Linked DNA regions of Homo sapiens. The protein of the gene in region 1 interacts with the protein of each later gene in a pairwise test. Each region holds a gene or a part of one and is shown in the gene's direction. Other genes may lie near its edges.

What was found.
Region 2: the proteins of NFE2L3 (region 1) and MAFK interact in a two-hybrid assay, tested with the Homo sapiens proteins (one study listed by BioGRID).

What each region holds. Positions count from the first base shown.
Region 1 is NC_000007.14:26,169,877-26,184,988, forward strand, and holds part of NFE2L3 (nuclear factor erythroid 2-related factor 3), read left to right. Parts: intron 1-8,066; coding exon 8,067-8,246; intron 8,247-13,824; coding exon 13,825-13,908; intron 13,909-14,656; coding exon 14,657-15,112. UniProt on the Homo sapiens protein: Activates erythroid-specific, globin gene expression.
Region 2 is NC_000007.14:1,521,397-1,537,249, forward strand, and holds the start of MAFK (transcription factor MafK), read left to right. Parts: upstream 1-9,305; 5' UTR 9,306-9,502; intron 9,503-11,056; exon of another isoform or gene 11,057-13,484; intron 13,485-15,853. UniProt on the Homo sapiens protein: Since they lack a putative transactivation domain, the small Mafs behave as transcriptional repressors when they dimerize among themselves.

The sequences.
Region 1 (15,112 bases):
TGCTTGAGCCCAGAAGTTCAAGACCAGCCTGGGCAACATGGCGAGACCCCGTCTCTACCAAAAAAAAAAATGCTTCTTAAGAGCTATGCAGTCTCTTCTTCCCCTTCTTAAGAGCTATGCAGTCTCTTCCCCTGTGGCCTCAGGTGGGTCACCATATGGGATAGTCCTGGTTTATGCTTGTTGCCCAGCCTAATGGTTAATAGTACCCTCTTACCCTCTCAAAAGTGGATGGGTTTGGTGATAAATTATACGGTCACTTATTCATAGACCTTTGGAGTGTCAGAGCTGGAAGGGGCCCTCTAAGGAAACCAGGTTTTCAAGACTGATGTGACATGGTCCCCAGGTCTTGGTGTCTTCCTCTCCCTACCCGGCTAAAGAAGAAATATCCACTGTAGCCACTACCTTCCTTCCCTTGGCTCTTTCAGTTGCTCATCTTTAAGAGCAGGCAGGCACTCTAACATTTCGAATCTGTCCCCACCTCAGTCCAGAGTTGTGCCCCTACTATCTTCATATTCACCCCCTCGTTTCCTATGTACGCTGATACCTGCAAGACTGTCCTGCTAATGAGCTGTGTTTCTCACCTTTTAATTAGCAAATATTAAGAAACAAACCCAAGGTAGGTGGGGTGTGAGGAAATGGGTTTGCTCACATACCAGATGGCAGTGTAGGTTGGAACAGCCTTTTTGGATGTCTGTTGGTATATCCCATGAAATAAGTTTAAAAAGTTGTCAGAACAGTTTCTTCAGAAAAACAAAAAACTCCTGGCACAGACAGAATTCAAGGGGATTTCTTTCAAATATTCCAAGTATCAGGAATTCCAATGTTAAATAAAGCTTCCCAATTCTTTTTTCAAAACCAGGATAACAGTGATACCAAGGCCTAAAAAAGCACATCAGAGAAGACCCTGACTCGCTCTTGGCCTGCATGACTCAGTCCTTTTGGAAGGCTGAGTGGAGAGGATCACTTGAGCCTAGAAGTTTTGAAACCAGCCTGGGCAAAACAGCAAGACCCTTATCTCTACAAAAAGTAAACATTAGCCAGGCATGGTGGCATGTTTCTGTAGTCCCAGCTACTGGGGAAGCTGAGAGGTGAGAGGATCACTTGAGCCCAAGAGTTTGAGGCTGCAGTAAGCCATGATCACCAGTTTTCATCTATCAGATTGGCACTTTTATCCATTGTTGGTAGGAATTATAATTGGCACAAACTTTTTTGAAGGGCTTTTCAGTAGAATCCATCAAATAAAAAACACACATATCCATTGACCCAGCATAAATTCCAGGAATGTATCCTACTTGCACACGTGTGCAAAGAAGTATGGATGAGGAGATTTTAATATCTGTTACAAGAAAAGATTAGAAACAACTATGCACCATTAAGAAGCCAGTTAGGCTGGGCGTGGTGGTTCATGCCTGTAATCCCAGTACTTTGGGAGGCTGGCAGGTGGATCACCTGAAGTCAGGAGTTCGAGACCAACTTGTTCAACATGGTGAAACCTCGTTTCTACTAAAAATACAAAAATTATCTGGGTGTGGTGGCAGGCACCTGTAATCCCAGCTACTCGGGAGGCTGAGGCAGGAGAATCGCTGGAACCCTGCAGGTGGAGGTTGCGGTGAGCTGAGATCGCGCCATTGCACTCCAGCCTGGGCAACAAGATCAAAACTCCTTCTGAAAAGAAAAAAAAAAAAAAGAAGCCAGTTAAATAAACTATGGTAAGAGGCAAATGAGTATACCATTCGGATATTATCTATGCCTTGAATTCCTTTGTCTCCTTTTTTCACATAGCTAGCTAGCTCTTTCACTTACCATAACTTGCAGTTATTTCATTAGTTCACTTGTATTTTTGGTTCCCTCTCTCTTTAGAATGTGAGATCTGGCCAGGAGTGATGACCCACACCTATAATCCCAGTGTTTTGGGAGGCCAAGGAGGAAGAATTGTTTGACTAGCCTGGGCAACATAGCAAGACCCCATCTCTACAAAAAAAACAAAAATAGAATGTAAGATGTGAAGGGGGCAGGGTCTGATTGTATTTTTTACTGTCGTATTCCCAGCACTAGTGTTGTATTTGATACTCAATTTAAAATGACTGACTGTATCTCAAATACAAGTCATCCTTATTGGTGAAGCATTCTCATTAAATTCATCAGCAAGAATATCAGGTATCACCATTATTATTTAGCATTATTTGGGAAGCATAGCTAAAGCAATTAGATAAGAAAATGAAATAAGAAATTTAAATGTTAGAAGAGTTGAAAATATTAAAGTTTATATGTCTATGCCCTTGGGGGCAAAACACAAATAAACAGAAAATTTAATGGGAGAAATTCTGGGCTAACCCTTTGCTGTTGCCTTAGCCAAAGTGATTTTGCTATGTAGGCATTTTTAGGTGAACCTTTTAGCTAAATATAATTTCAAACTTTTAAAAATGGCATATATATACCCTTTACCCAGATTTACCTATTTATGTCTTGCCTCATTTAGCTATATTAATAACGATGTCTCTCTGTATACATATGTGAATTGAAACCATTGCATCCCTCATCACCCAGATACTTATTAGTGTATATTTCCTAAGAACAGTGATTTTCTTTTCTATACCCAGTTATCAAATCAGGACATTTAATCTGAATGTAAGGCTACTATCTAATCTACAGTCCATTTTCAGAATCTGTCAGTATGTATTTGCCGAGTCTCTTTAGTCACCTGTAATGTGGAAACACTCCTCTCTCAGTGTTTCTTCACCTTTAGATTGTTGAAGGGCATCAATCAGTTAGTTTGTAAAAATGACCCCCAATGTTGATTTATCTGATGTTTCCTCAATGATTAGATTGAGATTATGAATTTTTGGTGAGAAAATCACAGAAATGGTATTGTGTCCTCCATATCAGGAGACCACGATGTTGGTTTAACTTCGTATTTTGATGATAGAGTTGACCATTTGATTTAGATGGTGTCTGCCAGATTTCTCCTGTAGTGTTATTATTTTTCTTTTTGTAATTAACAAGTAATCTGCAGAGTGATACTTTGAGACTCTTTAAGTATCTTATTTCTCATAAAATTTTCACTCCTTAAATTAAGCATCCATTGATGGTTTTCTAATTCATCATTCTCCTTTTATATTTATTATTTGTATTCTACTATAAGAAAGATTTCCTTTTTCCTTCATTTATTTGTTTATATTTGAGTGCACTCATTGATTCTTTTATTCAACTCATTTTATTCAATGAGTTATGATCCATTATTATATTATACCTAATTTTGGCTTCCTGTAGTGTGAATTTTGATCATACAGAATTTCTCTGCCTCCAGTCCTTCTCTTCCTGAGTTTTCAGACAAGACATCTTACATACCTTTGTTACCAATTCATTACACTCAAAAAGTTTCCCCCCACAAAAAAAGCCTTCCCAGACTAAAGTTTGCTTGATCAATTTCTCTATGGGCTTGATCTGTATCAACCACTTGTTTCCCTGTTATTATTTGTGTAATATAGGTGACATTCTTGTGTTTGCATGTTTGTGTGTGTCCATGTGTGTTGTATTAATGCACATATTACAGATTTAGGGGACTTTGCTTCATGGTTCTAAAATAGATCATTTGATTTCGAGATTAGAAGTTTCTCTCTCTACCACTAGCAAGTTTTTAAACAAAGTTAGCTGCCTCGGGTATCCAAAGTTTTTAATTTAATTATATTCAGATTTAACAACCACAAAAAACCTTACCTTGGCAAAAGATGAGAGGTAAAAAGTGATCAGTCACCTTTTCTTCCTTCCCCAGATTTATATAGGAATCAGTATTGTTGCAGGAAAGAACAATCTATCAGAAGTAAGATCTCTATCAAAGTCTTAGGATATTGTGTCTAAGAGTTCAGCTATTCAACAAATATGTAGCAAGGGTCTGTTATGTGCCAGAATCTGGGTTACGAAGTGGCCAACAGCAGGAACCAAGCAGACAGAGCCCTTGCCTTCAAAAAACTAGCATTCTAGTAGGACAAACAGCAAACAAATAAACATGGTAATATATCAGCTGGTGCTAAATGCTATGGAGAAAAAATAAAGCAAGATAAGGGAAAAAGATTTTGATGTAGTTTTTTATATAGAGAGATTAAGAAAGAAAACTGAGATGGTAAATATTTGAAGAGACCTGGGGTCAGGAGGATAAGAGGGTTGAGAGAGCTTACAGGCAGAAAGGGCTGCAAATACAAGGGCTGTGAAGTGGGAGAGTGCTTGGTGGACCTGAGAACTGAGCCTTGGGACATTGCTATGTTTGGATATCAAGGGGATGAAGAATCAGCAAAGCAGAAGTTCTTGATGAGGTAGGAGAATAGAGAGGTACTTGGATGCCAGGTGAAGAAGCTGTTTCCAGGAGGAGATGGTAACTAAGTCAAATTTTGCTGATGGGTGAAGAGAAAATACACTGAGTACAGATACTCTTTGGAGGTTTTTGCTGTCAAGGGGAGCAAAAAATGGGATGGAATCTGAAGACTAGTGTGGGACCAAGGGAGGGGTTTTTAAAGGTGGGGGTATTTGTGTATGATAGTAGGCTGATGCGAATTGTCCAGTAGATGAGAAAGAACTGTTGATGCAGAAGAGAGGGGAGAGTAGCAGGAGCAATATCTTGAGCACATGAGCAGGGTTGTAACGGAAATGTGCAAAGGGAGAGACTGATTGAGCTAGGACTAAACATCATCTACAGTGTCTAGAGGGAAGGCACAGTGTCAGAGTTAGGCACAATCAGACAGAGAAGCCAGTAAACCAAGTGGACCAGCAGAACATCAGCCTCCTTTTTTCTTATCTTGCCTTGATTTTTATCCTTTCTTCTGGCATCTGTAAATTGCCATTTCTTCAACCTTCACTTAAAAATGTTTTTCTGTGGTTTGGTGGGAAAAGGATGTGCCAGTGTGTCCTGTTCCTGGAAGAAACAGAAAGAGTGAAAAAGTTTGACAAGCTTTAATGTTATAGGGAAAAAATACATCCAGAGAGCTTTTAACATGATAGTTGAAACTATCTGAATATGCAGTACACTCTAAATGGTAACCATATTTGAATGTTTAGAAGAATTCTCTAGCCTTTTAATTATTTAGGTCTCCTTATTTATAAAGTAAATTAAGGTAGAAGGACTTATCTGGGTAAATAAGTATAGATCTGTGGAGATGTTTTACATTTATCATTTTCCTGATTATAAAAGGAATATGGCGGGGCGTGGTGGCTCATGCCTGTAATCCCAGCACTTTGGGAGGCTGAGGCGGACGGATCATGAGGTCAGGAGATTGAGACCATCCTGGCTAACATGGTGAAACCCCGTCTCTACTAAAAAATACCAAAAAAAAAAAAAAAAAAATAGCTGGGCGTGGTGGCAGGCACCTGTAGTCCCAGCTACTTGGGAGGCTGAGGCAGGAGAATGGTGTGAACCTGGGAGGCGGAGCCTGCCGTGAGCCGAGATCTCGCCACTGCGCTCCACCCTGGGCGACAGAGTGAGACTCAAAAAAATAAATAAATAAAGCAATATGTGTTTGTTGTAAAATATTCACAGTTATAGACACGTATAAAGTGAAGTAAACTCTTTCCCACCCTGTTGCCAACCTTCAGAGAGAACCAGAATTAATAGTTTATAATAATAGTTTCCGCCGGGTGCGGTGGCTCACGCCTGTAATCCCAGCACTTTGGGAGGCCGAGGCGGGCGGATCACGAGGTCAGGAGATCGAGACCATCCTGGCTAACATGGTGAAACCCTGTGTCTACTAAAAATACAACAAAAATTAGCCGGGTGTGGTGCCGGGCACCTGTAGTCCCAGTTACTGGGGAGGCTGAGGCAGGAGAATGGCGTGAACCCGGGAGGCCGAGCTTGTAGTGAGCCAAGATCGTGCCACTGCACTCCAGCCTGGGCGACAGAGCAAGACTCTGTCTCAAAAAAAAAAAAAAAATAGTTTCCATATTTGATCAGTGTTTGCTTCCAATTAGCTGTTTGATCAATTTTCTTTTCTTTTTTTTTTTTTTTTTTTAGTATTTATTGATCATTCTTGGGTGTTTCTTGGAGAGGGGGATGTGGCAGGGTCATAGGATAATAGTGGAGAGAAGGTCAGCAGATAAACACGTGAACAAAGGTCTCTGGTTTTCCTAGGCAGAGGTCCCTGTGGCCTTCCGCAGTGTTTGTGTCCCTGGGTACTTGAGATTAGGGAGTGGTGATGACTCTTAATGAGCATGCTGCCTTCAAGCATCTGTTTAACAAAGCACATCTTGCACCGCCCTTAATCCATTTAACCCTGAGTTGACACAGCACATGTTTCAGAGAGCAGGGGGTTGGGAGTAAGGTTATAGATTAACAGCATCCCAAGGCAGAAGAATTTTTCTTAGTACAGAACAAAATGGAGTCTCCTGTGTCTACTTCTTTCTACACAGACACAGTAACAATCTGATCTCTCGTTCTTTTCCCCACATTTCCCCCTTTTCTTTTTGACAAAACCGCCATCGTCATCATGGCCCATTCTCGATGGTCACTGTCTCTTCGGAGCTGTTGGGTACACCTGCAGAAAGGCTGTCACTTCACACTTGGAAGATTGCACAGCAGCCAGGCAGAGGCGCTCCTCACTTCCCAGACGGGGCGGCCGGGCAGAGGCGCTCCTCACATCCCAGACGATGGGCAGCCGGGCAGAGGCGCTCCTCACATCCCAGACGGGGTGGCCAGGCAGAGGCGCTCCTCACTTCCCAGACGGGGTGGCCAGGCAGAGGCGCTCCTCACATCCCAGACGATGGGCAGCCGGGCAGAGGCGCTCCTCACATCCCAGACGGGGTGGCCAGGCAGAGGCGCTCCTCACTTCCCAGACGGGGTGGCCAGGCAGAGGCGCTCCTCACATCCCAGACGATGGGCAGCCGGGCAGAGGCGCTCCTCACTTCCCAGACGGGGTGGCCAGGCAGAGGCGCTCCTCACTTCCCAGACGGGGTGGCCAGGCAGAGGCGCTCCTCACTTCCCAGACGATGGGTGGCCGGGCAGAGGCACTCCTCACCTCCCAGACGGGGCGGCCGGGCAGAGGCGCTCCTCACATCCCAGACGATGGGCGGCCAGGCAGAGATGCTCCTCACTTCCTAGACGGGGTGGCAGCCGGGCAGAGGCGCTCCTCACATCCCAGACGGGGTGGCCGGGCAGAGGCGCTCCTCACATCCCAGACGATGGGCGGCCAGGCAGAGATGCTCCTCACTTCCTAGACGGGGTGGCAGCCGGGCAGAGGCGCTCCTCACATCCCAGACGGGGTGGCCGGGCAGAGGCGCTCCTTACATCCCAGACGATGGGTGGCCAGGCAGAGACGCTCCTCACTTCCTAGACAGGGTGGCGGCTGGGCAGAAGCTGTAATTTTAGCACTTTGGGAGGCCAAGGCAGGCAGCTGGGAGGTGGAGGTTGTAGCGAGCCGAGATCATGCCACTGCACTCCAGCCTGGGCAACATTGAGCATTGAGTGAGCGAGACTCCCTCTGCAATCCCAGCACCTCGGGAGGCCGAGGCGGGCAGATCACTCGAGGTCAGGAGCTGGAGACCAGCCTGGCCAACACGGCGAAACCCCATCTCCACCAAAAATACAAAAACCAGTCAGGCATGGCGGCGCGTCCCTGCAATCCCAGGCACTGGGCGGGCCGAGGCAGGACAATCACGGGAGCCCGAGGCAGGGAGGTTGCAGCGAGCCAAGATCACGGCAGTAGAGTCCAGGCTCAGCAATGGAGGGAGACCGTCGAAAGGAGGGAAGGAGGGAGGAAGGGAGGAAGGAAGGAATCAATTTTCAACAGAAAACTAAAACTGCCTGCTGGCAACATTAATTTCCAAATCTAATCTAACTCATGAGTATTTTAAATTCAGGGGCTTTATAAGTGCATGTTAATTTAAATTGCACAGATTAGAACAGCCTGTCTCAGGACAGGATGTAAAACTGACCTTTGTTTCTGAATTAAATGTTTCTTTGATACTGAAATATTGAAATGCCGGTCTTAGCTTTTGACTTGTGGGTTTTCATGGTCCCTGAACAATAAGCACAATGCAGTTTTAAAGACTGTTTGCTTATTTGATGAAATTTCGTACTTTTATAGGAGAATGGGGTACTAAGAGAAAAGCACGAAGCTGTGGATCATAGTTCCCAGCATGAGGAAAATGAAGAAAGGGTGTCAGCCCAGAAGGAGAACTCACTTCAGCAGAATGATGATGATGAAAACAAAATAGCAGAGAAACCTGACTGGGAGGCAGAAAAGACCACTGAATCTAGAAATGAGGTAAGCCTGTCAGAATATTCAAGCCTTGCCGTTTTGGTTTTAATGTAGATTTTGTGGCATTGACAGTTTGTGTCAAGAATGAGCATGTAAAACAGTATGCTCTACTATTAACAAATATGATATATGAAAATACCTATGTCTTTAAGTTATGGGAGTAGTAATTTGATTTATAAATGAATTAGCCCATACAATTGTTTTCTCTGGTTAAACTCAAGATTTTGTGTGTATGTGCACACACCCCCTTCCAGGACCTTGCTAGCAGGTTTTGCTAGTTATGTTTGCCAAGGCAAGTGATGAAGAAATGGGGAACCTAGGAGTCCTCAACCAGCCACATGCACAGGTAGCCAGGCTGGCCTAGTCCAGGAGAGCAAGCCGAGGACCAACCCTACAGCCAATCACCCATGATGTCAGCTAAGGCTTGGGCTGAAATCTTTGTTCAGTCTCCTGGCAGGCCTGGCTGAACCGTTGGGCATCCATGGTCCAGTGGGACCACCTCCTTAACTCCTCATTGCCTAACCTTACTCTTTGGCTGTGAGAAGAGGTGTACAAAGATGAACTCCCGGAGCCAGGCTGAAGGGATGGATGCTTTCTGCGATCTGTGCTTCCTCCTCCTTTCATTTGGGCTGTACTCTGATTTCTCTTCAGCCCTGCTGAGGTCCTGCCCACAAGCATGGCAAACAGGCACTCGAGATATTTAATAACCACGTGGCACTTCCACCTGGAAGGCATACCCTCAGGGGTCTTGCCCTGACGGTTTTCTTAGGCATCACCTGCTTTAGCATGTCCCCTTCCCAGAATGTGGAGTTTAGGGCTGTGTTTTGAATACCTTGGAGGATGGAGAGTACCATGCCCTGACCCTTCTCAGACAGCTGTCATCATGGTAGCCCTGGCCATGTAATATTACATGGAACATTACTTATTTTGCATGAAATCAGAAAACAGGTTTGTTCTCTTTGCCTGCCTACCACTCCCTTGCCCCTCCAGCTTCCACCTAGAGCCCCTTGGTGAAATCTAGGGCAGGTCCCATAAATTCTAGATACTAATGAAAATCGCTCTGGCCATCCCAGTGCAGCAATTGATAAGAATAACCCAGTGTGTCCATGTACAGTTGCTCACACCTATAATCCCAGCACTTTGGGAAGCCAAAGCATGCAGATCGCTTGAGCCCAGGAGTTGGAGATCAGCCTGGGCAACATGGCAAAACCCCATCTCCACAAAAATTACAAAAATTAGTTGGTGTGGTGATGTGTTCCTGTACTCCTAGCTATCCAGGAGGCTGAGGTGGGAGGATCACCTGAGCCTGGGAGGTCGAGGCTGCAGTGAGCTGTGATCACACCAGTGCACTCCAACCTGGGCAACAGAGTGAGACCCTGTCTCAAAAAAAAAAAAAAAAAGTATAACCCAATGTAATTTCCAAGAACGCTGAACCAAAAGTTAGCTGGGCGTAGTGGTGTGTGCCTGTGGTCCCAGCTGTTTGGCAGGCTGAGGTGGGAGGATCACTTGAGCCTGGGAAGTTGAGGCTGCAGTGATCCGTCATCATGCCACTGCACTTCAGACGGGGTGACAGAGCAGGACCCTGTCTCAAAAAAGAAAAATCCAAAACAAAACACACTGGGCTAAAATTCAGCATCTTTCCTCAGTTTTGTGTGGCCTGCCCTGCTGATTTCTCTGGGGTTGAGGGTGTGGGGTGCTAAGAACATAGGAAATTGTTTCTCTTGACCACGCGATACATTTAAATATTATACAACTCTTTGTCACGTGGGCACCTTTTCGTGTATAGGTTCTTTGGAGACCCCTGGCCCCACAGCTGGGAGTCTTCCTCTTGACAGGGGCAAATGCATCTCCACTGCAGCTGGTCCTTTAGGACTCTTCCCTGAATGTTCCGTGGTATACATGCATCTCACCTCTTCAGGTGGCCCTCTCAACCATTTGCTGGCCGCCTAGCACCTGGAAACATGCCCTTAGACCCTTTTCCAGTTCCCTAACTATGGCTCTTGCATGGTTTCTCATCGTTTATATTTCCCAGGCAAAAACAGGACACTAAGCTTCTGTGTCCCCAAACTGCGGAAAACACACACTGAGTTCTAAGTGGTCTCCTTGAGGCCCTTTTTGACATTCTTCAGATGAAGGGGAGGGGGTAGAGAGCACACCCCAAGGAACCCTCCCATTTTCACTCTGACCAGTGGAGCTTTAACCCTTTTGTAACCCTCAATTGCAACCTGGCATTTGGCAACTGCCTGTTCTTTTTTCCCAGCTGGTATTCTCCCCAGCTCCTCTGACTTATCTATTTCCTAATTAATGGATGCATTGTATGGTTTTACCACTCTCCCCACAGCATACATACTGTATTGTCAAATCATTACCCATGGACTTTTATATTAAAATACTGACAGAACCATATATATGTTGAAGAGGACAACATTTCTGCCCACTTCCCTGAGTATTCACAGCTCTGTTTGAGGGAAAAGATGTTTTCACTAGTCTTTCACTTATTTAACACTGAATTGTATATTGCCTTTCTCCCAGGTATGTCTTCGTCTTTACTCCCTCACTGGGCTTCCCAGAAAAGCAAGAACTGTAACAAACTAATTCACTGCTAGGCACAGACTAGGCACTTACTAAATATTAATGAGGAGACAAATGAAGTAGGGAGCTTCCTTGGAGAGAATTTAAAATGTAATTTGACATAGGACAAACATCAATTTGGACAAAACTTTTCAGAAACATATTAATCATTCAAAGCCAGGCATTTGTGCCTAATTCTTATCAGGCTTGGTTCCTCATTGTGTTATCTCCATGTTCCTAGCCTGAGCATTTACGTCACATCTTCGTGTACTTAACACTTTTTTTTTTTTTGAGGAAGGCGGCGGGGGAGACAGGATCTCACTCTGTCACCCAGGCTAAAGTGCAGTGGCGCTGTCATGGCTCACTGCAGCCTAAACCTCCTGGGCTCAGGTGATCTCCCACTTCAGCCTCCCAAGTAACTGGGGCTATAGGTGCACACCACCATGCCCAGCTAATTTTTTGTATTTTCAGTAGAAGTGGGGTTTCACCATGTTGCTCAGGCTGGTCTCAAATTCCTGGGCTCAAGCAATCTGCCCACTTTGGCCTCCCAAAGTGCTGGGATTACAGGTGTGAGCCACTGCACCCAGCCACATTTCTTATAGTAGCTCTGACAAGATATTTCTGTTCTTTTATTGGGCTATTACTTAGTAGGTGCTTTTAAAGCTTGTTGAAATAAAACAGAAATGAGTTAGACCAGTGAATCACTGGCATTTCCATTCTTCCAGATGACAACTCTGGAAGAATATCTAGGAAATGGGGACTGGTACAATTCTAGCTACCCTTTAGAAATCAGAACCCCAGTGGGGGCCCCAAAGCTAGATATAAGATCTGAATGCACACTACCATCACCATCAAGAATCCTCGGCCAAGAGAAAGTACAGTCTGGAAAATGATATAAACACTGGTTCTTGAAAAGAAAAATGCAAAACTGCTCCCCAAAATGCTCACCTTTTAAGAATTAAAAATGACATAAATAGCCATGAGTCAGCATATGCAAAAGTCAGGATTCCTAGTCCTCTGAAAAAGACTCTAAATCAGTGTTTAAATTGTTCATAGGAACAGAATCTATAAGGCAAGAACAGACTATCATGAAAAAAGAAAAAGATCTAGAAAAGAGCCCAAATGAAATTCTAGATATGAAAAAAGTCATTTTCATTGAAAATTCAGTGGAAGTGATGTGAACAGCTAAGGAAAAGGGTAAGTTGGAAGAAAGATCTAAGAAAATTATCTAGAATATACCAGAGAAGATGCAAAATATGAAAGCAAAATTGAGACAATGATAGAAGAGAAAAATCTAAGTTACTTCTAATAGGAGTCCCAGAAGAAACTATAAAATATGAAAGATAAGCAATATTTAAAATGAGTTTATGGCAAAATATTTCCAGAAAAGTCCTCAGATTAAAGGACTACACAGAGCTCCTAACGAAAACAAATTAAGTCCTAGACATACCAGATTGAAACAGAACGTCAAGAACTAAGAAGAAACATTTTTTAAATTACCTGAGATAGAAAAGTTTCATTATAAATAACACTGAGAGCAAACTTACCAGTAGTAATAAATGCCATAAGACAGAGTACTGAGGGAAAACATTAAACCTTATATTTTTACCAGTTAACTCATCATTTAAGCATGAAGGCAAAATAATTCCATGTAGGCCGGGCATGGTGTCTCATGCCTGTAATCCCAACTCTTTGTGAGGCCAAGGCAGGTGGATCACCTGTGGTCAGTAGTTCAAGACAAGCCTGGCCAACATGGCAAAACGCCAGCTCTACTAAAAATATAAAAATTGGCCAGGCGCAGTGACACATGCCTGTAGTCCCAGCTATTCGGGAGGCTGACACACAAGAATCAATCACTTGAACCCAGGAGGCGGAGATTGCAGTGAGCTGAGATCTCACCAGTGCTCTCCAGCCTGGGCGACAGGACAAGACTGTCTCAAAATAATTCCATGTAACAAAAACTGGGTTTACTGCTCAGGTCCTCTCTAAAAAGAACTCTGAAGAGTTCTTTCAACTAGAAAGAGGCTAAAGCATAAAGGCCAGGAGTGAGATGAAGCATCGATAAATTGGTTTTAAAAAAACAAATTGGAGTAAATGTAAATAAGTATTGACTGTAAAAATATTTTTTGAGACGAGATCTCATTCTGTTAGGCTGGAGTGTGGCAGCGCTGTCACGACTCACTGCAGCCTCAACCTCCTGGACTCAGGCAGTCCTCCTGCCTCACCATCCCGGAGTAGCTGGGACCACAGGTGCACACCACCACACCCAGCTAATTTAATTTGTAGAAACGGTCTTGTTGTGTTGCCCAAGCTGGTCTCCAACTCCTGGGCTCAGGCGATCTGCCTGCTTTGGCCTCCCAAAGTGCTGGGATTACAAGCGTGAGCCACCACACCTGGCCAAAATTATATAATTGTGTAACCAACTGGGAGGGCTGGCTATGGAGGGGCAAAATAAGCTGAAACTAACAATTAGCCAAAAATTACATGGAAGTTGTTTATGGTAGGAATAGAAATACTGATTAGCTTTGGACTTTTAAGTATGCATGTTGAAATACTGAGTACCATAATCAGAGAAATAGGTCAGCTGCAGTGGCTCACGTCTGTAATCCCAGCACTTTGGGAGGCCTAGGTGGGTGGATCACTTGCGGTCAAAAGTTCGAGACCAACTTGGCCAACATGGTGAAACCCTGTCTCTACTAAAAATACAAAAATTAGCCAGACGTGGTGGTGCACAGCTGTAATCCCAGCTACTCCGGAGGCTAAGGCAGGAGAATCCTTTGAACCTGGGAGGCAGAGGGTGTAGTGAGCCGAGATTGCACCACTGCACTCCATTCTGGGCCAGAGTGAGATCCGTCTCAAAATATAATAAAAAGTAGAACTTCCAACCAAGGAACATAATAGCATAAAAATCCAGTGTGGAAATAATACCTGGTGATCCTTTAAAGATAAAGCCTAAAGCCCCAACCAGTTCAGTCTTTTATGTGAAAGATGCACTTTTTGTGTTTCTCTACAGAGACATCTGAATGGGACAGATACTTCTTTCTCTCTGGAAGACTTATTCCAGTTGCTTTCATCACAGCCTGAAAATTCACTGGAGGTAATTGGAACTTTGGCTTTTATCCTCGCAGGAACATATCTGCACTGACCTTTTGGTGAACAAATACAACTCCTTTACTTGGATGACACAGCAGTTTAAAGTAATGCTTATTTTTACAGAAGCACTTCAGCTTAGAATTAACCAAATATGTATAGCATTCCTCTTTCCAAATAATCCCAAAGGTATAATCAAATTTAGACTAGTCATGGAAAACAGCGTGGAGATTTCTCAAAAAACTAAAAGAATTATCAGGTATTTATCCAAAGGAAAGGAAATCAGTGTATCAAAGGGACACCTGCACCCCCATGTTTATTGCAGCAATATTCACAATAGCCTTGTAGTTTTAGCGCTTAGAGGCATTTAAACAGCCTCTCTCCTCCAGACTACTTCACTGTAGTTTATTATCCCTGACCCTCCACAATGTGATTACCAACCGCTAGGATGAGTTGCATCTTATTATAAAGTAGCAAATTACAAGATTGTAACATTAGACTTTTTAAGAAAATCCAGTCAGCTTTTATACTAATCCATCTTAATTTCTAGGTTACTCAGAATTCCAGGTATTCTGATTTGGACTCACATCTCGTATTGTATTGCCTGTATTTAACTAGGAAGTTACTGCCAACAGCATCTATCTCTATTAAATGTAGAGGAATTGACAAAAGAGGGGAAAGAAAGTTGTTAGGTAATAGAACTGCTTCAGAAATAGGGCTATTCATGTTTGAAGTGTTTCTCCTTCGTTTTTCAGGGCATCTCATTGGGAGATATTCCTCTTCCAGGCAGTATCAGTGATGGCATGAATTCTTCAGCACATTATCATGTAAACTTCAGCCAGGCTATAAGTCAGGATGTGAATCTTCATGAGGCCATCTTGCTTTGTCCCAACAATACATTTAGAAGAGATCCAACAGCAAGGACTTCACAGTCACAAGAACCATTTCTGCAGTTAAATTCTCATACCACCAATCCTGAGCAAACCCTTCCTGGAACTAATTTGACAGGATTTCTTTCACCGGTTGACAATCATATGAGGAATCTAACAAGCCAAGACCTACTGTATGACCTTGACATAAATATATTTGATGAGATAAACTTAATGTCATTGGCCACAGAAGACAACTTTGATCCAATCGATGTTTCTCAGCTTTTTGATGAACCAGATTCTGATTCTGGCCTTTCTTTAGATTCAAGTCACAATAATACC
Region 2 (15,853 bases), about 25 Mb from region 1:
CCGAGATTGTGCCACTGCACTCCAGCCTGGGCGACAGAGTAAGACTCCATCTCAAAAAAAAAAAAAAAGACATACCTGAGTCTGGATAATTTATAAAGAAAAAGAGGTTTAATAAACTCACAGTTTCACGTGTCTGGGGAGGCCTCACAATCATGGCGGAAGGCAGAAGGCGCATCTCACGTGGTGGCAGACAAGAGACAGAATGAGAGTCAGGCCCAAGGGGGTTTCCCCTGATAAAACCATCAGATCTCGTGAGATTTATTCACTACCACGAGAACAGTGTGGGGGAAACCACCTCCGTGATTCAATTACCTCCCACAGGGTCCCTCCCACAACATGGGGAAATTACGGGAGCTACAACTCAAGATGGGATTTGGGTGGGGACACAGCCGAACCGTATTGGCTGTCTCGCCAGGCCCTTTGGAAGAGTCTAATGGAGGAATGTGGAATACCTGACCCAGTGACTGGCACCCAAAAGAAACTCAACCTTGGCAGCTCTTAATTGGCTTCTTGCTGTTGTCTGAGCATGAGGGAAAGGCTGTCACAGAGGGACTTGGGCTTCCCCGGAACAGGTGCCCCAACCCCAGCCCGTGGGTGGAAGATTCTTTGCTGTGGGTCTGTCCTGTGCACGCAGGTGTTGACCAGCCTCCCTGGCTCCCGCTTACTCCACGCCAGCAGCAACTCCCTGTTAGAGAAAAAGAAGACATCATTCAATGATGCTTGTGGAAGATGGGAAGGCAGCCTGGAGCCGTGGGTGATGCCTGTGATCCCAGCCCTTTGGGAGGCTGAGGTGGGAGGATCACTTGAGCTCAGGAGGTCGAGGCTGCAGTGAGTGATGATCATGCTGCTGCACCTTAGCCTGGGCAATAGAGTGAGACCCTGTCTTTCTCAACACAAAATAAAAAACAAAAAAATTAGGCTAGGCATGGTGGCTCACGCCTGTAATCCCAGCACTTTGAGAGGCCAAGGTGGGTGGATCACCTGAGGTCAGGAGTTCGAGACCAGCCTGGCCAACATGGTGAAACCCAGTCTCTACTAAAAATACAAAAAAAGTAGCTGGGTGTGGTGTTGGGCACCTGTAATCCCAGCTACTCAGAAGGCTGAAGCAGGAGAATCGCTTGAATCTGGGAGGCGGAGTTTGCAGTGAGCTGAGATCACGCCATTGCACTCTAGCCTGGGTGACAGAACGAGACTCCGTCTCAAAAAAAAAGCAAAGAAAGAGCCAGAGAAGCCTGATTGGGTTTTGCTCCAGGAGAGAAATTTGGTCACCTCCCCCACCACCGGCATGACAACCAAGGATGCAGGAAGCTGTCCAGGCCGAGGGACCCCCAGAGGCCAGGTCACCACTGGGTGGGAACTACTGTGTTTTTGTTTGTTTTGAGTTTTTTTTTTGGAGACAGGGTCTCGTTCTGGCACCCAGGCTGGAGTGCAATGGCGCCATCGTAGCTCGGCTAATCTTTGCATTTTTAGTAGAGTCGGGGTTTCACCATGTTGGCCGGGCTGGTCTCGAACTCCTGACCTCAGGTGATCTGCCCACCTCGGCCTCCTAAAGTCCTGGGCGTGAGCCATTGCGCCCAGCCGGTCTTTTCATTTGAGAATGCTTTGCAGTTTACAACGAACTTCCCCGTGTCTGGCCCTCAAGTCGATCCTGTTTCTATTTTAGGGATGAGGAGCGGGCTCAAGGGTGGCAGCCGTGCCCTCAGGGCAAGTGGTGAAGCATTGGGAAGTCAGATCCCACCTCCTCCCTCTCCGGGGCTCTTTGTACCTCTCCCAGATTTGACATGCACAGGGACCCCTTTTCCCTCTGCTCCCTGCACAGGCAGAGGTCCCCCGCCATCCCAACAGCCCCAGCCCATCACTGCTTCCTGGGAGGAGCCTGAACACTGGGACCCAGCCAGGGGGCCCCCACACTCCTGGGAGGGCCTTTGTTCAGGTGGAGCCTTCCAAGGGCACAGGACTGAGCCTGCCGCACCCAAGACAGCCCTGAGCATGCAGGCGGACCAGGTCGAGGTGTGGCCCTGCCTCTGCCGAGAGAGTCACATCCCCTCTCCTCCTCACGGGGGCAGGGAGTGCTGGAGACGAAGGGGTGCCGCTGAGCCCTGCCGTCCTGCAGAGAAGCATGCATCGTGTGTGGCGGTCAGCAAGCACCTGCCTGCAGAGGCTGCCCCTTCCCGAGGCGTGGGGTGCAGACACTGGGCCCCCTTTAGCTCCCGGGGAGCCACGCTGAACTTCCCGAGCTCGGGGTGGGATGTGGCCGGGGGTCCTGAAGTCCAGCCTGTTCCGGGCTCCAGTCTCCACTTTTCTGGGATCTGAGTCCCTGGGGGAGAGCCTGTGGGCATCCTGAGGGTAGAACTGTTGGGGCCACCTCTCACACGCCATGCTCAGGGCTCCTGCCTGTCTTCTCCCTGCAGTAGAATTGATCCTGGTGGTCTCCGTGTCCCTTCCTTTCCCCGACCTCAGCCGGGGCCACCTGAGTCCCCCGGGTTACCCTGCATACCTCCAACTCTCAGGAAGAAGCGAGGGTAGGAGGGACCCCACCCCTCCCGGGGCGCCCCGGGCTCATGGTGCAACTGGACTCGTCTCCCTGCAAGAACCAGCCCTGCACCGCTGGGGTCCTGGGGCAGACCCCGCTCTGTACCCCAGTCCCAGAGCCCCGGCTGCCACACCGCTCTTCCCGGGGCAAACAGGGACAGCCTATCCGGGCGTAACTAAGGCTGCCTCTGCCATAAAGCCGTAATCACAGGGACATTCACCAAGGCATGGGGCAAAGGTCTGCATGGCCCCTTAGAACCTGAACCCACACAACCACCCCACGAGGCAGCCATTCTTTCCTCTATCTCACTTTACATTGAATTGTATAGTTTTGAATATGTGGCCTGACGACAGCCAAAAGAACATAAAACGGGTTTTCCAGAGAAGTCTGGTTTCTCACCCTGCCCCGTCCACCCCGCCAAAGGCACCTGTTTCTACTGGCTTTTCTTTTTATTTTTTAGAGACAGGGTCTCGCTCTCTTGCCCAGGCTGGAGTGTAACGGCACAATCTTAGCTCACTGCAGCCTCAAACCCCTGGGTTCAAGCGATCCTCCCACCGCAGCCTCTTGAGTAGCTGGAACTACAGGTGTGCACCATAGGGCCCTGCTAATTTTTTTTTAATTTTTTTGAAACTGAGTCTTACTCTATCACCCAGGCTGGAGTGCAATGGCGCTATCTCAGCTCATTGCAACCTCCTCCTGGGTTCATGTGATTCTCCTGCCTCAGCCTCCTGATTAGCTGAGATTACAGGTACCTGCCACCACGCCTGGCTAGTTTTTTATATTTTTAGTGGAGACAGGTTTCACCATGTTGGCCAGGCTGGTCTTGAACACCTGAGCTCAAGTGATCTGCCTGCCTCAGCCTCCCAAAGTGCTGGGATTACAGGCATGAGCCTAGCTATTTCATATTTTGTAGAGACAGGGTCTTGTTCTGTTGCCCAGGCTGGCCTTGAACTCCTGGGCTCAAGCGATCCTCACACTTCAGCCTCCCAAGCAGCTAGGACTACAAGCATGTGCCACTATGTCTGGCTAATTTTAAAACTTTTTGTAGATATGAGGTCTTGCCACATTGCCTAGTCTGGTGTTGAACTCCTAGCCCCAAGCAATCCTCCTGCCGTGGCCTCTCAAAGTGCTGGGATTACAGGCGTGAACCACTGTGCCCGGCCTCTATTAGCTTCTTCTTTTTTTTTTTTTTTTGAGACAGAGTCTCGCTCTGTCGCCCAGGCTGGAGTGCAGTGGCGCGATCTCGGCTCACTGCAAGCTCCACCTCCCAGGTTCACGTCTTTCTCCTGCCTCAGCCTCCCGAGTAGTTAGGACTACAGGCGCCCACCACGCCCGGCCAATTTTTTTGTATTTTTAGTAGAGACGGGGTTTCACTGTGTAAGCCAGGATGGTCTCAATCTCCTGACCTCGTGATCCACTCACCTCGGCCTCCCAAAGTGCTGGGATTACAGGCGTGAGCCACTGCACCTGGCCCGGCCTCTATTAGCTTCTTGTTCATCCCTCCAGTCTTCCTTGTACTGGTGCAAACACGAATCTACATTTTTCTCTCCTGCCCTTTCTTACACTCAAGGTAGCATATTATACACCAGTTCTGCACCTTGCTTTTTCATTAACAATGTACCCCAGAAGACCTTCCAAATCAGCACGCAGAGGTCTTCTGCTTTCTTTTTCATAGCTGCATAGTACTCTGCTCTGTGGCTTGCTAAGTGACTTAGCTAGGCCCTCAACAATGGCAGCTTGGCTGTTTTCAGTCGGTCACAATGACCATCGATGTCACCGTGGTGATCCTTGCACCTGTCCCTTTTACATATGAACAAGCAGGTGAATGGCACAAGTTTCAGAAACGGGATTTCTGAGGCTGAGTGCTGTAGCTCACACCTGTAATCCCAGCACTTTGGGAGGCCAAGGCAGGAAGATGGTTTGAGCCCAGGAGTTCAAGACCATCCTGGGCAACATAGCGAGACCCTGTCTCTATGAAAAAAATATAAAAATTAGCTGGATGTGGTGGCACACACCAGTGGCCCCAGCTACTCAGGAGGCTGAGGCTAGAGGATCACTTCAGCCTGGAAGTTCAAGACTGCAGTGAGCTAGGATTGCACTACTGTACTCCAGCCTGAGCAGAAGAGACTTTGTCTCAAAAGAAAAAAGAAGAAGGAGGAGGAGAAGGAGAGGGAGGAGGAGTGAGAGGAGAAGGAGAAGAGGGGAGGGGAGGAGGAGAAGAAGAAGAAGAAGGGGGGGGAAAGGAGGAGAAAGGAGAGGGAGGAGGAGTGAGAGGAGAAGGAGAAGAGGGGAGGGGAGGAGGAGAAGAAGAAGAAGAAGGGGGGGGAAAGGAGGAGAAGGAGAGGGAGGAGGAGTGAGAGGAGAAGGAGAAGAGGGGAGGGGAGGGGAGGAGGAGGAGAAGAAGAAGAAGGGGGAGGAGAAAGGAGAAGAAGGGGGAGGAGAAAGGAGGAGAAGGAGAGGGAGGAGGAGTGAAAGGAGAAGGAGAAGAGGGGAGGGGAGGAGGAGAAGAAGAAGGAGGAGGAGAAAGAAGAAAAAGAGGAGGAAGAGGAAAAAGGAGGAAGAGGAAGAAGGAGGGGGAGGAGGAAAAGAAAGAAAAAGGAGGAAGAGGGGGAAGAAGAGGAAGAGGGAGGAGGAGGAGGAGGAGAAGGAGGAGGAGGAGAAGGACAAAGAAGTAGTGGGATTGCTGGGTTCTAGCACAAATCGGGGCCATGGTCTCATGGACAGTGTGGCCAGACTCCTTCCCTGGGGCTCCGCTGCCTGGCCCCTCCACCAGCAATGCGTCCAAGGGCTCGCTCCCTGAGCCGTGCCTTTGGGGCACGAGATCTGATTTGGGGATTCGCCTGGACAAGAAGCAGAACGGCAATGTCTTTCTCTGATGTGCATTTCTCTGATTACAGACACCTTTTCACATGTTTGTCCTGTGGATTTCTTTTTCCGTGGATGATCTATTCACCTCCTTTGCCTTCTTTTATTGGTTGTGTTCTTTCATACACGTTTAGGAGCCCTTTGCCTGGTAGATCTGAGTTGCAAGTATTTTTCCTAGTGTGTGCTTTGTGTTGTGACTTTACTTCCGAGGATTTTTGCCTTGAATCTGTTTTGTGGTATTTAGATTTTTAATCATGATTAGAGTAACCTTTTTCCACTCTGAAGTTATAAAGAAAGTTACATATGTTTTCTTCAAGGCTGGGCACAGTTGCTCATGCCTGTAATCCCAGCTCTTTGGGAGGCTGAAGCAGATGGATTGCTTGAGCCCAGGAGTTCAAGAACAGCCTAAGCAGCCTAGTGAGACCCTATCTCTATTTAAAAATATAAAAGTTAGCTGGGCATGATGGTGCATGCCTGTAGTCCCAGCTACTTGGGAGGCTGAGGCAGGAGGATTGCTTGAGCCCAGGAGGTCCGGGCTGCAGTGAGCCAGGATCGTGCCACTGCCCGCCAGCTTGGGTGGCAGAATGAGATCCTGTTTCAAAACACACACACACACACACACACACACACACACACACACACACACACACACACTTTTTCTTTTTTTGGAGACAGAGTTTTGCTCTTGTTTCCCAGGCTGGAGTACAATGGTGCAATCTCGGCTCACTGAAGCCTCCGCCTCCTGGGTTCAAGTGGTTCTCCTGCCTCAGGCTCCCGAGTAGCTGGGACTACAGGCGTGAGTCACCACATCTGGCTAATTTTGTATTTTTAGTAGACATGGGGTTTCTCCATGTTGGTCAGGATGCTCTTGAACTCCCGACCTCAGGTGATCTGCCCGTCTCAGCCTCCCAAAGTGCTGGGATTATAGGCATGCGCCACCACACTCAGCTAATTTTGTATTTTTAGTAGAGACAGGGTTTCTCCATGTTGGTCAGGCTGGTCTTGAACTCCTGACCTCAGGTGATCCACCCACCTTAGCTTCCCAAAGTGCTGGGATTACAGGCGTGAGCCAGCTTGCCCAGCCAGAACTTAACATTTTTTTACAAAAGGAACTACTAAATGATGAAAAATTTCTGGAGATGGATGATGGCAATGTTTGTACCACAACGTGAATGTACTTAACGCCACCGAACCGTACACTTAGAATGGTTAACTTGGCCTAGTGTGATGGCCACCATGCCCAGCCTATTCACCTAATCACACCTGTGATCTTAGCACTTTGGGAGGCTGAGGTAGGAGGATTGCTTGAGGCCAGGAGTTCAAGACCAACCTGACCAACGTAGCAAGACCCTATCTCTGAAAAAATATTTTTTTAACTTAAAAAAAATGGTTAAAATGGTAAATTCTATGTGATGTTTACTTTACCACAATAAAAAGTAAACTTTGGCTAGGCACAGTGGCTCATGCGTGTAATCCCAACACGTTGAGAGGACGAGGCGGGAGGATCACTTGAGCCCAGGAGTTCAAGACCAGCCTAGGCAACAGAGCAAGATCCTGTCTCTACAAAAAAAAACAAAGAAAATTAGCCAAGCGTGGTAGCACCAGCCCTTGGTCCCAGCTACTTAGGAGGCTGAGGTGGGAGGATCACTTGAACCTGGGAGGTGGAGGCTACAGGGAACTGTGATTGCACCAGTGAACTCCAGTTTGGGCGACAGTGAGATGTTGTCTCATAAAACAAACATAAATAAATAATTCAAAATTTTAAAAATTAGGCTGGATGCAGTGGCTCACGCCTGTAATCCCAGCACTTTGGGAGGCCAGGGCGGGTGGATCACCTGAGGTCAGGGGTTCGAGACCAGCCTGGCCAACATGGTGAAACCGTCTCTACGAAAAATACAAAAATCAGCCGGTGTGGTGGCGCACGCCTGTAATCCCAGCACTTTGGGAGGCCGAGGCAGGCAGATCACAAGGTCAAGAGATTGAGACCATCCTGGCTAACATGGTGAAACCCGTCTCTACTAAAAATACAAAAAAAAAAAAAATTAGCCGGGCGTGGTGGCAGGCATCTGTAGTCCCAGCTACTCAGGAGGCTGAGGCAGAAGAATTGTTTAAATCTGGGAGGCGGAGCTTGCAGTGATCCGAGATCGTGCTACTGCACTCCAGCCTGGCAACAGAGTGAGACTCCATCTCAAAACAGCAACAAGAACAAAAACAAAATTTAACCAGACGTGGTGGTGGGCACCTGTGATCCCAGCTACTCGAGGGGGCTGAGGCAGGAGAATCACTTGAACCTGGGAGGCGGAGGCTGCAGTGAGCCGAGATGGTGCCACTGCACTCCAGCCTGGACGACAGAGTGAGACTCCATCTCAGAAATAAATAAATACAAATTAAAAAATTAAAGAGATAATAAAAGTGTGTGATTAGTAACAAAAGCCTGCTATGGAAAGAATGCATTTGGGTTAGAGGAGCGACACCATGAGTAACGTAAAGAGTCCCGCGGAGATGGCCACAGCTTCTCTGGAGGCTCCCAGCGCATCCCAGGACCCCGAGTGCAGAGTGTGGGCCAGGACAAGGGAAGCACCTTTCCCATCCCCGGGGGATGTCTTTCTGCAAACATCCTGGGGACGTGGGACATTGTCGCTACTGCTGCTGTTGAGTTATTTCTTGGCACCTGTTTCTGCGGCCAGGTTGCAGGCATCACTGTGGCTAGCTGCCCCAGACGGCCGTGTGGGCCTTAGCAAGGAGGGGCCTCCCAGGTGGCCAGTGCAGAACCCGCAAGTGGGGGGGAGAGATGGCCCGGGAGGCTGCCCCCGCGCTCCACAGCAAGAGGCCACTGGGCTGCTGCCTAAATCCCCAGCCACATGGTGGTAAGGACGACACCCAGAAGATGCACAGACCTCCCTGCACTGGCTCCTGAGTCCCACCTGAGCCGAGAAAACAGGCTCCCGGGTCCCACCTGAGCTGAGAAAACAGGCTTCCCAGAACCCCGGGCAGATGCCATGGGTGTCCTGGGGGGCCCTCGGTTGCCCAGGCCTGAAACTCCTCTTCCTGCAGCGCTCAGAGGGGGGCGGGACTTGGGGACCCAGAAGCGTGGCAAGGGGCTCCAGACGGATCCCCTCTCCAGCCTGTCCTCCACCTGTGACAGGAAGCAGAGGCAGCTCCCTCAGGGGCCCGCCCCCACCTGAGGATCCCTCACAGGACTCCTTGGGCCAGTGGTGCCCTAACCCCATCCTGGGCCTGCTGTGTCCCCTGGCAACCACCAGCTGGGGCTTTAGAAGGGGGCTGGCCCCACCCACAGAGGCTGTGATCACTAGCCGCTTATCCCCATTTTTACATTGCTGGTTTGCTTGTTTTGTTTTTTTGAGACAGGGTCTCACCTTGTCACCCAGGCTAGAGTGCAGTGATGAAATCATGGCAGCCTCCACCTTCCAGGTTCAAGCCATCCTCCTGCCTCAGCCTCCTGAATATCTGGGGCCGCAGGCACATACCACCACGCCCGACTAATTTTTGTAATTTTTTTGTAGAGATGGGGGTCTCACTGTGTTGTCCAGGCTGGTCTGGAACTCCTGGGCTCAAGCGATCCTCCTGCTTTGGCCTCCCAAAGTGCTGGGATTACAGGCATGAGCCACCGTTCCCAGCTGGCCTTAATGTTTTTTATGTTTATAGAGACAGAGAATGGGGGAAGGGAGGTTTCGCTATGTTGCCCAGGCTGGTCTTGAACTCCCGGCCTCCAGAGATCTTCCCGCAGGGCCTCCCAAAGCGCGGGGATTGCAGGTGCGCGCGGGGCCAGCGGCCCCCCGGGCGGGAGAGGAGGGCGTGGCCGGGGGGCGTGGCCGCGGGGCGGGGAGGGGGCGTGGCCCGGGGGGCAGGGCGGTGTGACGCGCGCGCCGCGGATCCCGGAAGCGGTGTCAGATGCTGGGGAGCCGGGCGGGCGGGTGCGGTGGCGGCGGGCGGCGCGGGGGCACTTGTTGTTCTTCGCGAAGTCGGAGCCCGAGCGCCAGGCGGCGGCGGCGGCCGAGGGGAGCGCGACAGTGAGCGCCGGCGCGAGGACAGCGCGTGCCCGCGAGGAGCCGCCGCGCGCCCGCGCCCTCCGCGCGACGCCAGGTGAGGGGCGGTGGGGCAGCGGGGCCCGGGCCGCGGCGGGGACGGGGACCGGGGCGCGGGGCCGGGGCTACCTGGCCGCTGAGTCACGGCCGCCTGGGGGCGCGGGCCGAGGGTGGCGGGGTTGGGTGCGCGGGGCCCGAGACCCTCATGCGGCCCGCGGCGCGGCCCGGGCACCTGCCCAGGTGGGCCCCGCCCCGCAGGCCCGGGGGCTTCCCCGGGACGCGAGGCTCTCTCCCCTGCACGTGCCGCCCGGGCCATGCTTGCCGCGCCGGGGGCCCCAGGGCGCGGACCCCAGACCTGGGAGGACGAGGATCCACGCGGGTCGGCGGCGCGCATCGGGCCCGCGCCTTCACACCTGCGGGGGGCGGGGCGGGGCGGGCGCCACGTGCGGGCGGTGCGGGGAGGGCGCGGGCGCGTGGATTCTCCGCGGCTTCCGCCCCAGCGTGGCTTCCGCGTGCGGCCCCGGACTGCCCCCCGCGCTTCCTCCCGGTGACGGGCGGCGCTCTGGCCCAGTGGCTGGGGTCACGCGTGCCCGGGAACGGGGTGGGGGTAACCGGGTCTCCCCACAGGCGGGATCCTGGGACTGGTGTCGCTCTCAGCCGCCCACCTGCCAGGGTTGCTGGAAGGAAGGCCGTGGGGAGGCGGGAGGGGGGCAGGTGACAGTGGCCCCAAGGCTCGTCCCTTTGCTCACGTGTGGGGCAGGGGCTCCGGCCTCTTCCCGCTCCCACTGCGTGAGTTCTTCTGTGCCTCTGTCAAGTTCAGGAAACTGTGTATGTGCCCGTGACTGTGTGTGTCTGCGTCTGCACAGCCTCTAGATCCTGGGGGGTGGGACCAGGCGCCACCGAGAAACCCAGAAAGCCAGGACCCCGCCTGGCCTTGGCCCTTGACCTGGGTCCGCCTGGGACACAGCAGTGGCCCTGCACTGCATTCTCGCGCTCACACCGTGTGTGTCCGTGTTCGCGGGGCCTCCCGTGTCCCTCTCCTGGTGTCCTGCGTCCCTGAGCATGCTGTTTTCTTGCTTCTTAAGTAGCTCTTGTAGCTGAGGCAGAAATTAGATCCACTCACCATTCATTCACCAGGTGACCCACAGGCAGCCAGCCAATCTCTGGCCAGGTGCCTGGCCTTGGGAAGATCCTGAGACTCAAAACGCCCCCCACCGCCCCCCATCGTGGTCTAGGGGATATCTGTGTGGTTCGGCTCTGGCAGCGCCCTTCCCACCCCTCTGATTCTCCAGGGTGGGCTGCCAGGTCTCTTTACTGGCACTGAGGTTTCACCGTCACGGTGTGTTGTTGTAAGGGGTTCTCCAACACAGAGTGGGGTGCCCTATGCAGCTTCTCCAAACCCAATGTCTTCAGGGACATGGAGCATTAAAAGAGCCGTGGGCGGGGTCTGGAGAACATAGGTGGGCTGTGCAGGTGTCTGGGACACACCTACACCCTATTTGGGCGTCCAGTGCCATTTATGAGAACATCTCCCTTTCTTAGGTAACCCAGTAGGAATGTCTGAGTTTGACCTTGGGAGAGGGAGTCTGCTTTTAAAACTAGACCTCTCATTATTCCAAAATAAGACATTTATTAAAGCAGAAAAACCAGGCTTCTCCTGCCTTTTATCCTTGAACCGAGCCAGGGCTTTGAGGGGCTGGTTGCCCGCAGCGTCGACTCCCCAGGTGCTGGTAAACCCGGGAGCCAGCGTTTACCGAGGGTCAGGGTTGTCGGGGCGCCAGCCTTTGTGTGCACCCGGGAGGCTGCTGTTAAGGGAGACCGTCTTCCGGGCCACTTCGCTGTCTACAAGGCGTGTGCTTTCACCCACGGGGCTCAGCGATGGCTGCGTTTGTTTACAGTCTCTGGCAAAGCTGTTTGCCACCCAGACGGAGAAGAAGTTGTGCCTGTTCTTGTCCCAGCTGTTTCTGAGTCTAAAGGTTTCTGGAGTGGACTTTCTGGGTTTCGGGTCCAGTCCACACGGGAAATGGAAATCTGGCCAGCTGAGAGAGGGCTCCGTGTGGCCGCCTTTCAACAGTAAACAGTGACTCACCGCTCCGTCCCCACCCTCCCTGCTCTCCGCGAATGGAAGATGCCTTTCCCCGCTATTTATTTTTGCTTTTTATAAGTCACAGACTCGTCATGTTTCCGCTTTCCTACAGTTTCAGGAAACTGGGAGTGTCGTCTTAAAATCATAGAGTTTTAGAGCAGGTACAAGCGAACTTGAGTGGCCACATGCCCCACCCCCCGACCAGCTGCTGTAGATGAGGAAGCCCAGGCCATGAGGTCTGCTGGCCTGTCCCACAGGCCGGTGGGGTCTGGTGTAGAGCCTTCCTGCTTCTCCGCACTGTGCGTCGGGTGTCCTGGGGAAGGTATTGGGGTGGAGACTGCCCTCTCCCTGCCCTCCCATGCGGGGCCGGCTCATCTCGTACAGCGGGGGCTAGTGTGGGGTGTAGGGAAGACCTTCTCCCTGCTTGCAAGGAGCTCACCATGCCTTGGGGAGGCCCCCTGTCCCCAGAAGGATCTAGAACCAGGCCTTGGTAGAGGGTGCTTGCCTACGCGAGGAGGAGAGCAGTGGGGAGTGTTTCTGGAAGAAGCAGGGCAGGGAACCACGTGCTCTCTGCAGATGGTGATCAGAAACCTGAAACGGCATTGGGGTGGGGGAGTCGGGGTTTGGGAGGAACCCCCAAGACTTTTGACTGCCTGTGGGGCTGTGTGGGGGGCACCAGGATCAGGGTGAGGGCATCCCATTTGGCAAAGCTGTGGTCCAGACAGGAGACGCTGGAGGCCGGAGCCTGGGCAGGTGCTGTGGGTTCAGGCGGGTGATGCTTGAGGGCTGGGATCAAGCCTGGTTGGCGCGTGGATGAGGAAAAGAGAGAGGGGCAGGGGCAACTCCGGTGAATGATGCGGTTGGGGGCTGGGGGGCATCTGGGCCCCCCGGAATGCCCCTGACTGGACTTAGAGGCTGGGAGCGGATTGAAGCCCCAGGGCGGCCGGGGGAGAACAGGATGCTGATGGGGAGCTGGAGGCCGAGGACAGGAGGATGGTGTGGTGGGAGCCAGGGCGGGGACTGGAGGGGGTGTGGTGTGTTCTGCAGTCTGCTCTCTGCTGCTGCAGCTGCCTGAGTCACCTCTGGATGTAGCGGAATGACACAGCTTCCTCAGACTGCAAATGCAAGGTGACCAGACGTCCTCCAAGCCGGGCCGACAGTCATGGCTTGCTGGAGGGCAGCCAGCCAGGGCCAGGCTGCTGGCTGGTATGGGCCGGGCTGCGGGGTGCCAAGTGGGGTGCCTCCCGCATGCTTAGTGGGGCTGTGTCCGGGACAGCCGGACAGTGGGGGCCCTCGCAGTGTAGGACCTCATCCTCAGTAGGAAGGGTGTCTGGCTGGTCTCTGGGACCAGCTGGGCTGCAATTAGTCGGTTGACACCTGTTTGACAGGCACCCACTGGGTACCAGTGCCACAGCGGCCCCACCTACCCTTGCGGCCCAGTGTGGAGGGCACCCGGCTTGGGGTCTCTGGCAGAAAGGCTCCTGGGAGAGGCGGGTACACCTTGGGTGGCCTCTGGTTTTGTGGATTGCACCTGCCGTGGGAGTCACTGGTCGGGGGGCGGGAGGGCGCTTGCTGCTGTGCTGCTGGGTTTCTGAACCCGTGTCTCTCGCACAGAGCTCCCGTCCTCCGTTCCTGGTCTTCCTCCTGCCCCTCCTCCCTCTCCCGCATCCCACATCCTCGGAGACCCGCGGAGAATAGAAGTGGAAGGGCCACTCCGTCTTGGTCAGACTGGCTGGGCAGCTGAGGGGGTGGGGCATGGAGTCTGTGTCATCATTCACCCCTTGGGCAAGAACAAGTGACCCATCCAGAGCCCCCATGCTGGCCTCGTAGAGCGAGCGGCAGCCCCGATGCGTCCTCTCATCTGGGAAGAATCAGAGCCCCAAAGCTGAAATCCCCGTTTCTCTATGGGCATCCACAGCCGGGACCGTTCAGAGGGGTCATCCAGCCGTCAGCTGCTCAACTCACTTTTGCACTCTCTCTTTTTTTTTTTCCTAAAAGATAAGGTCTTGCCCTGTCACTCAGGCTGCTGGAGTGCAGTGGTGTGATCACAGCTCACTGCAATCTCGACTTCGAGGCTCAAGCAATCCTCCCACCTCAGCCTCCCGAGTAGCCGGGACCATAGGCACATATGTGCCATCACAACTGGCTATTTAAAATTCTTTTTTTTTTTTTTTTTGTAGAGATGGGGCCTTGTTATGTTGCCCAGGCTGGCCTGAAACTACTGGGCTCGAGCATTCGGCCTCCGGAGGCGTTGCTATTACAGGCAAGAGCCACTGTGCCCAGTCCCAACTTGGTGGAGAAAATGTTCCCTCCTGGACCCCAAAGCAGGTCCTTCTCAGCTTGTGCCAGCACAGCAAGAGGTGCCAAGGCTGCCAGCCCCCCACTGAGCAGGGTCAGGCCCATGGGTGACCAGTGAGTATTTGCTGGGACTTAAAAAGTTAAAAATGGCCGGGCATGGTGGCTCATACCTGTAATCCCAGCACTTTGGGAGACTGAGGCAGGAAGATCACTTGAGTCCAGGAGCTCGAGACCAGCCTAGGCAACATGGTGAGACCCTGTCTCTACAAAAAAGTTTAAAATTCTCTGGGTGTGGGGGTGCCCACCCGTAGTCCCAGCTGCTCGGGAGGCTGAGGCAGGAGGATCGCTTGAGCTCAGGAGGTCTGCAGTGAGCTGTGATTTCACCACTGCACTCCAGCCTGGGTGACAGAGTGACACCTTGTCTCTAAAATGAAAATTAAAAGGGAAAACATGATCCTCCAGAAGCTGAGGTGGCTGCCTGGGGATCACCTGCTCCTGAAAGCACAGTTCTGGACGACTGACCCTGGGCTGCCTGCCCTGCCGGGGGGAGCCCAGGGCTCTGATCCTCACCCTCTGCAAGGTGCCTTCCTGGGCGGAGCCGCCCTGCCCTGCGCTTTATGGAGCCCAGGCCCTCAGTCTGGATCCTGGAAAGGGGCGCCCGGCGTCCTGGCTCCGTCACTCATCCCCAGCTGCAGCCGCAGGAATTGCCTCTGTCTGAGGCTGCTGGCAGTTCCTTTTCCTTGAGAGGAAGTGATGCCCCCGCTGAGCCTTGTTTAGTTCTGCGTCACGTCGAGGTGTCTGGCCTTGGGTTGAAAACCCTGCCTCTTCCATCCGAAAACCAGTTACCTGAGAGCTGTTCCAAGTTATAGGTGGTGCCGGAGAACTTTGCTGCCCGGCGCTGCTCCCGGGACGTGGGGCGTGAGCGCTGCACCCTTACTTACGTCGGCTGCTGGGGCCCCACAGCGGAAACTCAGACCCGCCCACCCAGGCCCCCGCTGTGGCGCTGAACACTGCACTTCTCTGGTGACCACCGAAACTCAGAGGAGCTCGGGGTGTCGGGTGCTTGTGCGTGGCGATGCTGGTGTTTTGTTAGCTGCTGGGCGTAAGACACAATGCGAGGACGTCGTTCCTCGGGGGCTGCTGGAGGGGAGCTTGGCTGCAGTGCTGACCAGGTGCTAATGCAGTAGCCCCTGCCTTGGGCCCGGGGTAGTGCACGGGCGTCTCTGCGACCCCAGGCACGCTTTCCCCCTGGATGACACCCTAAGGCTGCGTCTCTGGCCCTGGGGTGGGAGCGCTTTCTACATGTGCTCTGGCGGCCCTGGAGGCCATGTGAGGTCGGACAGTTCACAAAACCCCATTTAGGGCAGTCGTCATTTTTAGATCAGTTGCTTTACAAACTTTTTTTGTGCATACAAAACTCTTCTCTGAATGTCCTTCCAAAAGCAAGCTGTCATCTTTCTTGCCTCTGATGTTTAAAGCGACATTAGGTTAAGGCTACTTGGATTTATTCTGTGCATGGTGGGGAGAGGGAGGCGCCAGCACCATCCCATCCCGTGCTGGGTTCCTGAGAGAAGCTTTGCTGCTTGGCTGGGCCGTCCCGCTGCGTCGTCTCTCCAGGCGCGTGGCTGGTCCAGGCTTCCTCGGCAGAGCAGAGTCGTGACCTGCCCAAGGAGGTGGGGGGCAGGCTTGCGAGCACAGCGTGGGGGCCGCCTGGGAGCCCTGCGTCCGCCAGGTCCTCATTCTTCAGAGGGCCCCAGTGCAGGTGTGCCTCGAAGTACTGGGGTTGGAGCGGGGCACAGGCGTGCTTCAGTAGCCCTGGCAACCTTGACCTCCTGGAAGTAGTCAGCCACCCCTCCTGGGGCGCCCCCGGCTACCGTGTGCCTCCGCAGTGTCACAGGGCATCGCGGAGGCATCTTTTTAGTGGAAAGATCCCCACGCTGAACTCTGCCCCTGGCATCTGGCCGAGCCCCACACGTCACCGTGGGTCTGGCCAGACGGTCCTGTCCCCCGGACCTTCCTTTTCCG